Regions from separate parts of the Homo sapiens genome. Here region 2 is linked to region 1. The links come from fine-mapping of genetic effects on gene expression. A gene starts in region 1. The other region holds a variant in brackets. All regions are shown on one strand. Distances are from middle to middle. Region 1 holds the start of RPA1 (replication protein A1). Region 2 overlaps RPA1 (replication protein A1).

Evidence for each region.
Region 2: its variant is fine-mapped to the expression of RPA1 in whole blood (INTERVAL, PIP above 0.99).

The regions. Positions count from the first base shown.
Region 1 is chr17:1,828,280-1,832,666 of GRCh38, forward strand. RPA1 (replication protein A1) reads left to right here and starts at 1,726. Exons shown (of 17, transcript NM_002945.5): 1 at 1,726-1,847. The coding sequence starts at 1,815. SMYD4 (SET and MYND domain containing 4) reads right to left here and starts at 1,623. Exons shown (of 11, transcript NM_052928.3): 1 at 1,447-1,623. RefSeq lists a silencer at 1,475-1,994 and an enhancer at 2,622-3,122.
Region 2 is chr17:1,898,891-1,903,277 of GRCh38, forward strand. RPA1 (replication protein A1) reads left to right here. Exons shown (of 17, transcript NM_002945.5): 17 at 1-1,192. Among named protein-coding and RNA genes, the nearest start is that of RPA1, 71 kb to the left of the region's middle. The variant G/A (reference allele first, on the strand shown) is at 2,150.

The DNA of each region.
Region 1 (4,387 bases):
GGCGGAGGTTGCAGTGAGCTGAGATCACGCCATTGCACTCCAGCCTGGGTGACAGAGCAAGACTCTGTCTCGGAAAAAAAAAAAAAAGGAAAATCAAGATTTCATTCAAGGAAGCCTGAAACAATAAAATCAATTCTTGTGGTCTTTTCCTCTAGTTTATATGCTAAGGAAGGATCTATATTTTCTCACAGCAATTCACTCAACATCCTTCCATTCAGAAATATTTACTGAAAGACTACTTTGTCACAGGCACCATGCAGGTGATGGTTATACAAAGACGAAGCAGACTAGATAGCTACCATCTGTGCTCTTAGATCCTCTTTTTTTTTTTTTTGTGAGGCAGAGTCTTGCTCTGTCACCCAGGCTGGAGTGCAGTGGCACCATCTCGGCTCACTGCACCCTCCGCCTCCCAGGTTCAAGCAATTCTCCTGCCTCAGCCTCCGAGTAGCTGGGATTACAGATGCGCGCAACTACGCCCGGCTAATTTTTGTATTTTTAGTAGAGACGGGGTTTCACCATGTTGGCCAGGCTGGTCTCGAACTCCTGACCTCAGATGATCCGCCAGCCTTGGCCTCCCAAAGCGCTGGGATTACAGGCGTGAGCCACCGCGCCCGGCCTGATCCCTCTCTAGTTTCTCTGAGACACATCCCAGATTTTTCTTTCTCACCCACCCCAGCAACTATTCATTTAACAAGGTATTTCCCTCTCTTACATAGTTCAGCGTTCTGATTAAGTCCTCACCATCTCGTCTGGCATTCTTCCTAGAGTGTTATAATTAATGTCCATGCCATTGGCACCACTCCCCACTTTCAATCCAGCCTCCAACACTGAGACAGAAGTCAGTGCTCTGCCCTTAAATTCATCAACGCTACTCCAAGCATACCAGGAAGCCCAGGACAAAACCATCCTTACTTGACCCTTGTCTGACTTTCTAATTCTCAGGTGTCACTTACTCCTCTGCATGCACCCTTGCATACTGAACAACTCATTGCTATCCCCGGCTTGCCAGGCTATTTCAACTCTCCAATGTTTTGGCATAGGCTACTCATGCTTTCCGGACCAACCCTACCCTGGCTTATGGAGTCCACCTGGAAAATTCCCACACGTTCTTCGACTCGGCTCAAATGGCACCTCCTCCGGGACGGCGTCCCTGATTTCCCAGCTGTGATTCCAACACCCTTGGGGCCTGTACCACGTCTACCTGGAGGTGGGGTTACTGACGGCATAAAGTGCCCCCACACACTGTCCTCTTCTCTAAGGACGGGGGCCGGGTCTGATTCCCTTTCGGAGACCCCCCACCCCCACCCCCCACCGCCACGGTGCCAAGCTCAGGGCTTGGAGGCGGGAAGTCAGCCCCGCGTTGCTGGACGAATCGGGTCACTACTGCGACTCTATTTAGCAGCGGAGGTCTCAAGGAACAGCTTTAACCTCCTCTGGGATACCAACCCGTGCACTCGCCAGAGACCGAGGCGAGAACGCCTCGAGAACCGCTCAGACGCGCCCGGAACTGCGCCCTGGTCTCCCTCCCAGCGCCCGCGCAGCTCCTGGCGCGCCCCTTGGCGCCCCGCTCCGCCCCGCACCGCGTCCGGCGTCCCGCGCCAGGCCTCGCTTGGGACCATGGGTGGGTCACGTGGGCCGCGCCTCGGCCAATGCGGCGGCTGCGTAGCGCCCGGGCCCGCCCCTGAGCCGCGCGCACGTCGGGGGCGGGAGCGGTGCGCGCAACTTCTCGGGCCAATAACTGCGCAGCGCGCGGGACCCGGGTGGGGAAGCTGGAGCTGTTGCGGGGTCCGCGGGGAAGTCTTGGCGGTGGAGCCATGGTCGGCCAACTGAGCGAGGGGGCCATTGCGGTGAGGAGGTGCCGGGGGCTGGGCCGGCGGTCCGGGGTGGCTGCGGCCCCGAGCCTCGCGGAGTAGAGAGGGGGAGGGGAGCCCGGGGCGACGGGGGATGAACGCGAGGGGAGGAGATGGCGGGGGGCGGTGGGGACCCGCCGGGCGTCCCTCTAGTGTCATCGCCCCCTCCTCAAAGCATTCTTTCGATCGTCTTTAAAACATGCTCACATTTTTCCTACGTAAGAACAAACTAAATAAACGCTTGCCTTTCTCTGCATCTTCCACCTGCGGACACTTTCTGTCTCTTCTCCTTTCCCCACCCACAGCCAAACTTCTTGTCTGGTTTCAGCCACTTCCTTTCCTCGCCTTTCATCAACTCTTTAACCCACTCCAGTCATCCCTTTGATCGCTGTAGAAAACCCTGGCTGAAGGTACCAGTGGCCTCCAAGTTGCTAAATCCAGCCCTTTTCCGTTTTCAGCTTACCTGAGTTCTCAGCAGCGTTTGCGTTTAAGCCCTGCTTGCTTCAGGTCACACCCTCTTCCTTGGTTTTTAGTGGCTCAGCTTGGCAGGTCTATCCCCGTCTTATTTGTAAGTCCCTCTTTGTAAATTTTTGTTGAATCAAGGCTCCCTCTAGGCCCTCTTGACTCCCGAGGCAATTTCTTTTTTTTTCTCCAGCCTGGGCGACACTCACTGTCGCCCAGGCTGGAGTGCAGAGGCGCGATCTCGGCTCACTGCAACCTCCGTCTCCCGGGTGCAAGTGAGTCTCCTGTCTCAGCCTCCCGAGTAGCTGGGACTACATGTGTGCGCCACCACACTCGGCTACTTTTTGTGTTTTTATTAGAGACTGGGTTTCATCATGTTGGCCAGGCTGATCTCGAACACCAGACCTCAAGTTATCCGCCCGCCTCGGCCTCCCAAAATGCTGGAATTACAGGCATGAACCACCGCGCCTGGCCCCAAGGCAATTCCATTGCCATCTATTAATATATGTCAGTTGCTCACAAATTTCTTTGTACAGAGCCACCTTTACTCTAAAAGACAAACTTCCGTCATCTGTCTGCTTATTCCATGCTTCAGAGGGTTTTAAGTTCAGTATACGTATCCCAAAGCAAATTCTTTATCTTTCTAAGTCTGGGCCTCTTGATCCCTATCTCCACGGATGGCACCATTATCTATTCAGTTCAGTGCTAACCAGAAATTGAGAAATCATTCCTCCTATATTGTCCATTACCTGGGCATCCAGTCCCTCACGAAGTGAAGTGTATTTTGCCTCTGCGTAGATCTATCAAGCCCACTGGCTTCTCTCCATCCATACTGGCACCGTCTTTTTTTTTGCCTGAGCTGCTGACTTCCACTCAGCATACGTTCCTGCCACCATTCCCATCCACAGCATACTCTCAGCCTACCTCTCCAGTCACCCCCACATTTTTTTTTAAATTTAGATTTCTGGTATATTCCATACTCCTACCTTCTTCCATGGGGCCTTTGAACTTTTTTTTTTTTTTTTGAGCTGGAATCTTGCTCTGTTGCCCAGGCTGGAGGGCAGTGGCGCGATCTCGGCTCACTGCAAGCTCTGCCTCCTGGGTTCACGCCATTCTCCTGTCTCAGCCTCCCGAATAGCTGGGACTACAGGTACCCGCCACCACGCCCGGCTAATTTTTTGTATTTTTTAGTAGAGACGGGGTTTCACCGTGTTAGCCAGGATGGTCTCGATCTCCTGACCTTGTGATTCGCCCGCCTCGGCCTCCCAAAGTGTTGGGGTTACAGGCGTGAGCCACTGTGCCCGGCCTTTTTTTTTTTTTTTTTTTTTTTTTTGAGGCAGAGTCTCACTCTTTCTCCCCATACCCCCCCACTACCGCCCCAGGCTGGAGTGCGGTGGCGCAATCTCGGCTCACTGCAACCTCTGCCTTCTGGGTTCAGGCAGTTCTCGTGCCTCTGCCTCCAGAGTAGCTGGGATTACAGGCATGTACCACCACACCTGCGTAATTTTTTGTATTTTTAGTAGACACGGGGGTTTCACCATGTTGCCCAGGCTGGTCTTGAACTCCCAACCTTAGGTGATCCACCCTCCTCGGCCTCCCAAAGTGCTGGGATTACAGAAGTGAGCCACCGCACCCGGCCCTGAACATTTTTTTCCCTCTGCCCACTGCCTGGGTGGTTCTTCACTCTTCCCCACACTGGCAAACACTATCTTCGTATCTCAGCTCATTTGTGACTTCCCTTACTAGGCTAAATCCCTTTGAGACCCCAATTCCTGTTCATTCACTTATTGAATTATTTATTTTTTTTCTTTTTGAGATGGAGTCTTGCTCTGTTGCCCAGGCTGGAGTGCAGTGGCACGATCTTGACTCACTGCAACCTCCGCCTCCTGGGTTCAAGCAATTCTCCTCCCTCAGCCTCCCAGGTAGCTGAGAATACAGGAGACTGCCATGATGCCCGGCTAATTTTTGTATTTTTAGTAGAGATGGGGTTTCACCATGTTGGCCAGGCTGGTCTCGAACTCCTGACCTCAAGCAATCCACCTGCTTCGGCCTCCCAGAGTGCTGGGATTACAGGC
Region 2 (4,387 bases), 71 kb after region 1:
ATTGACAAATTGTGGCTGGGAAGTGGCGATCTAGCTTTCAGCCCAGTAACCAGTCTTTCATGCCTACTACTCCCAGCATTCCCTCCTCTCCCCACGTGTCTGTCCACACAGTGAAGAGGCCTGACCAGCCGTGGTACCAGGACAGGACGTGTCCAGGGAACGCTGACACCTGTCCTCGCGCCTTCTCAGTGGCCAGCGTGATGAAACCAGCACGTCTCCGTGGATGTGATTGGGAACCCAGGGGCAGTGCCAGGGGGAGGGCTCCCTCGAGGAGGCTGTTTCTAACAGATTTCCCCACTCAAAGATCAGATCACCAGCAGAGGAGCATCAGAAACTGGCTCCACTGTTGGGCTTTTCAGAGATTTTGGTCCCTGCGGGTTGCCTAAATAGATTCTGGCCCACAGTTTACCTCGAAAGGCTGTTGATGTTGTTCTGTTTCTCCTCTTTCACTTAGAGATCAATGTTGATTTTGCGTACACCATGACATCAGCGTTAGGCAATTAGGAGAAAAAAATCTAATCATTTCGCCTTTATTTCAAGTGGTTCTTGAATTCCCTCCAGTCTCATTGTGAAAGGGGCAGGGAAAAAAATAAAAGGGTAATAATCTGATTTCTGTCCATATTTCCAGTGTTTTATGCTTTCCATTAAAACCTTGCTAATCTCTCGCGTGCTGTTCCTTTTTTGAACTGCAGGGTCAAAAATGTTCCCCTCCCCCACTTCTGTTTCCTGAGTGGGCTGTCTTCAAAAAGTATAAATACTATTGATCGTGGTATTTAATACACTAATGAAACCCATGGTTATTGACTACATAATTAATATACTGTCCAAAAGTGAAGTTTGGCCGCCCAGTATGTAAAGGTTTATATTGACTCATGTTTCTTTGGCAATATGCCGCCCAAGGTTTTATTTATAGAGGATGAAACAGGTTGTTTGGTCTCCTTTTCTTCTTTTCACCTGTTAGAAGGCCACTATTCCCCTAGTAAACTGATTGTTTCCTTGTCTCAAAGGGAAGATTCCCCCCACTCCCCGGCCACCTTTTATGTGGTTTGTTAACTCTTAGTCTTATATCCACTCCGCTGGTAGAGTTCTGGCTTTTATAAACACCTTTGGAAGTCATCGGTTCCTCAAAAAGAGAGCATAGATGTTTAATTTTCACTTATTCAAAAAAACTGGTATTTTTGTTATTAAGACATTAAGTAAATGTTTAAGAAAAAAAAGGATAATTTGGACTATTGACTTTCTTATGCAAGTAATCATATTTGTTTGTTTGTTTGTTTATTTATTTTGAGACGGAGTCTTGCTCTGTCACCCAGGCTGGAGTGCAGTGGCACGATCTCAGCTCACTGCAACCTCCGCCTCCCAGGTTCAAGCGATTCTGCCTCAGCCTCCTGAGTAGCTGGGACTACAGGCATGTGCCACCATGCCTGGCTAATTTTCTGTATTTTTAGTAGAGACGGGGTTTCACCGTGTTAGCCAGGATGGTCTCGAACTCCTGACCTTGTGATCCACCTGCCTCGGCCTCCCAAAGTGCTGGGATTACAGGTGTGAGCCACCGCGCCCGGCCTCCATGTTTATTTTAGGAAAATAATCTACAGTTAAGAAAAACAAAATTGGCCTGGCACAGTGGCTCATGCCTATAATCCCAACACTTTGGGAGGCTGAGGCGGGCAAATCGCTTGAGCCAAGGAGTTCGAGACCAGCCTGGGTAACATAAGGAGACCCCCGTCCCTACAAAAAAATAAAAATTAGCTGGGCGTGGTGGCACACACCTGTAGTCCCAGCTACCTGGGAGGCTGAGGTGGGAGAATCACCTGAGCCGTGGGAGGTCAAGGCTGCAGTGAGCCATGATTGCACCACTGCACCCCAGCCTGGGCGACAGAGCGAGACCCTATCTCAAAAAAAGGGGGAGAAAGGGTGGGTGCGGTGGCTCTCCCTTGTAATCCCAGCACTTTGGGAGGCCAAGGCAGGTGGATCACCTGAGGTTAGGAGTTTGAGACTAGCCTGGCCAACATAGTGAAACCCCACCTCTACTAAAAATACAAAAATTAGCCAGGTGTGGTGGTGGGCTCCTGTAATCCCAGCTACTCGGGCAGCTGAGGCAGGAGAATCACTTGAACCTGGAAGGCAGAGGCTGCAGTGAGCTGAGATC[G/A]CACCACTGCACTCTAGCCTGGGCGACTGAGCGAGACTCCATCTCAAAAAGGCAAAAGAAAAATAAAATTACTTAGGATTTCACCAACCAGTAATAAACACTTGTGTAGCTGGCTACTTTTTTCTTCTTTTTTTTTTTTTTTGAGACAGAGTCTTGCTCTGTCGCCAGGCTGGAGTGCGGTGACACGATCTCAGCTCACTGCAACCTCCACCTCCCGGGTTCAAGCAATTCCCCTGCCTTGGCCTCCCAAGTAGCTGGGACTACAGGCATGTAGCTGGACTACAGCCTGGTAGTTGGGACTACAGGCATGTGCCACCGTACCCAGCTAATTTTTTGTATTTTTAGTACAGATGGGGTTTCACCATGTTAGCCAGGATGGTCTCGATCTCCTGACCTCGTGATCCGCCCTCCTCGGCCTCCCAAAGTGCTGGGATTACAGGTGTGAGCCACCGTGCCTGGCCCTGGCTAGTTTTTTCTATGTATCTATGTGTATAGAGTTTAAATTAAAAATGGTAGCATAGTAAGCATATCATTTTGTAATGATTTTCTCCTAGGATGGGCATCTTTATTTTGATAAAAATTGCATCAGAACCACCATTAGGCCAGGTGCAGTGGCTCACACCTATAATCCCACACTTTGGGAGGCCAAGGCAGGTGGATCACTTGTGATCAGGAGTTCAAGAGCAGCCTGGCCAACATGGTGAAACCACATCTCTACTAAAAACACAAAAATTAGCCGGGTGTGGTGGCTCACCCCTGTAATCCCAGCTGCCCGGGAGGCTGAAGCAAGAGAGTCCCTCCCCGTGAGGCAGAGGCTGCAGTGAGCCAAGATCACACCATGGCACTCCAGCCTGAGCGACTGAGGGAGACTCCATCTCAAAACAAAAAAATCACAAACATAATTAAAAGATTTACTAATCATTAATAGCTTTAGATAAATAATTTTAAGTGGTGTTTGGCTCTTTGGATGTGTTTTCAGCCAATTCACTCTTGCAGGATGCTTATACTTTTTCTAATTGTTATAAATTCAAGATTTCACGAGCAGAAGCGTTTATGCTTTGTGGCACTGACAATCCATGCCTTTTCTTGTTCTGTTAGGTTCTCTCATTGATTTTTCTTTGCCTAAGTCCAGGGATAACTCCTCTAACCCTGTGTACCACCAAGGGCTGGTAGGTAATTTGAGCAGGTCCTTCCTTGGAAGCAGGTAGATTAATGTAGGGAGGGGAGGGAAAAAGAAGGCTTTGGAGCCCTGGTTTCATCCTGCCTACTACACAGACGGGGGCTGTGCCTATGAAGAGGCGAAACTCTTGTTTCCCACCACCCTGGCAAAGAAGGCCTCTTGAGAATACATTTGACTTGCCTATAAATCAACCTGATTATCTAAAGCTATTAATGATTATTAAGTCTTGTAATTATATTTGTAATGATGGTTTTGAAAAGTCATTGAGAAAAGTATGTAGCCACTCGTCTTCATGGTTCCAGCCTGTCAGTATGTGACTTTATTTTTTGAGATGGAGTCTCTGTCGCCCAGGCTGGAGTGCAGTGGTGCGATCTCGGCTCACTGCAACCACCACCTCCTGGGTTTAAGTGATTCTCCTGCCTCAGCCTCTTGAGTAGCTGGGACTACTGCACGCCCAGCTGATTTTTTGGGGTCTTTTTGTTTGTTTGTTTGTTTGTTTTTTAGACGGAGTTTCACTCTTACCCAGGCTAGAGTGCAGTGGCACAATCTCGGCTCACTGCAACCTCTGCCTCCCAAGTTCAAGCAATCCTCCTGCCTCAGCCTCCCAAATAGCTGGGACTACAGGCGCCCGCCACCATGCCCAGCTTATTTTTTGTATTTTTAGTAGAGACGGGGTTTCACCGTGTTAGCCAGGATGGTCTCAATCTCCTGATCTCGTGATCTGCCCGCCTCTGCCTCCCAAAGTGCTGGGATTACAGGCGTGAGCCACCACGCCCAGCCTTAGTATGTGACTTTTTTTTTTTTTTTTTTTTTTTTTGAGATGGAGTTTCGCTCTTGTTGCCCAGGCTGGAGTGCAATGGCGTGATCTTGGCTCACTGCAAACTCTGCCTCCCAGGTTCAAGCAATTCTCCTGCCTCAGGCTCCCGAGTAGCTGGGATTTACAGGTATATGCCACCGCGCCCAGCTAATTTTCTATTTTTAGTAGAGACCATGTTGGTCAGGCTGGTCTCAAACTCTCGACCTCAGGTGATCCGCCCACCTTGGTCTCCCAAGGTGCT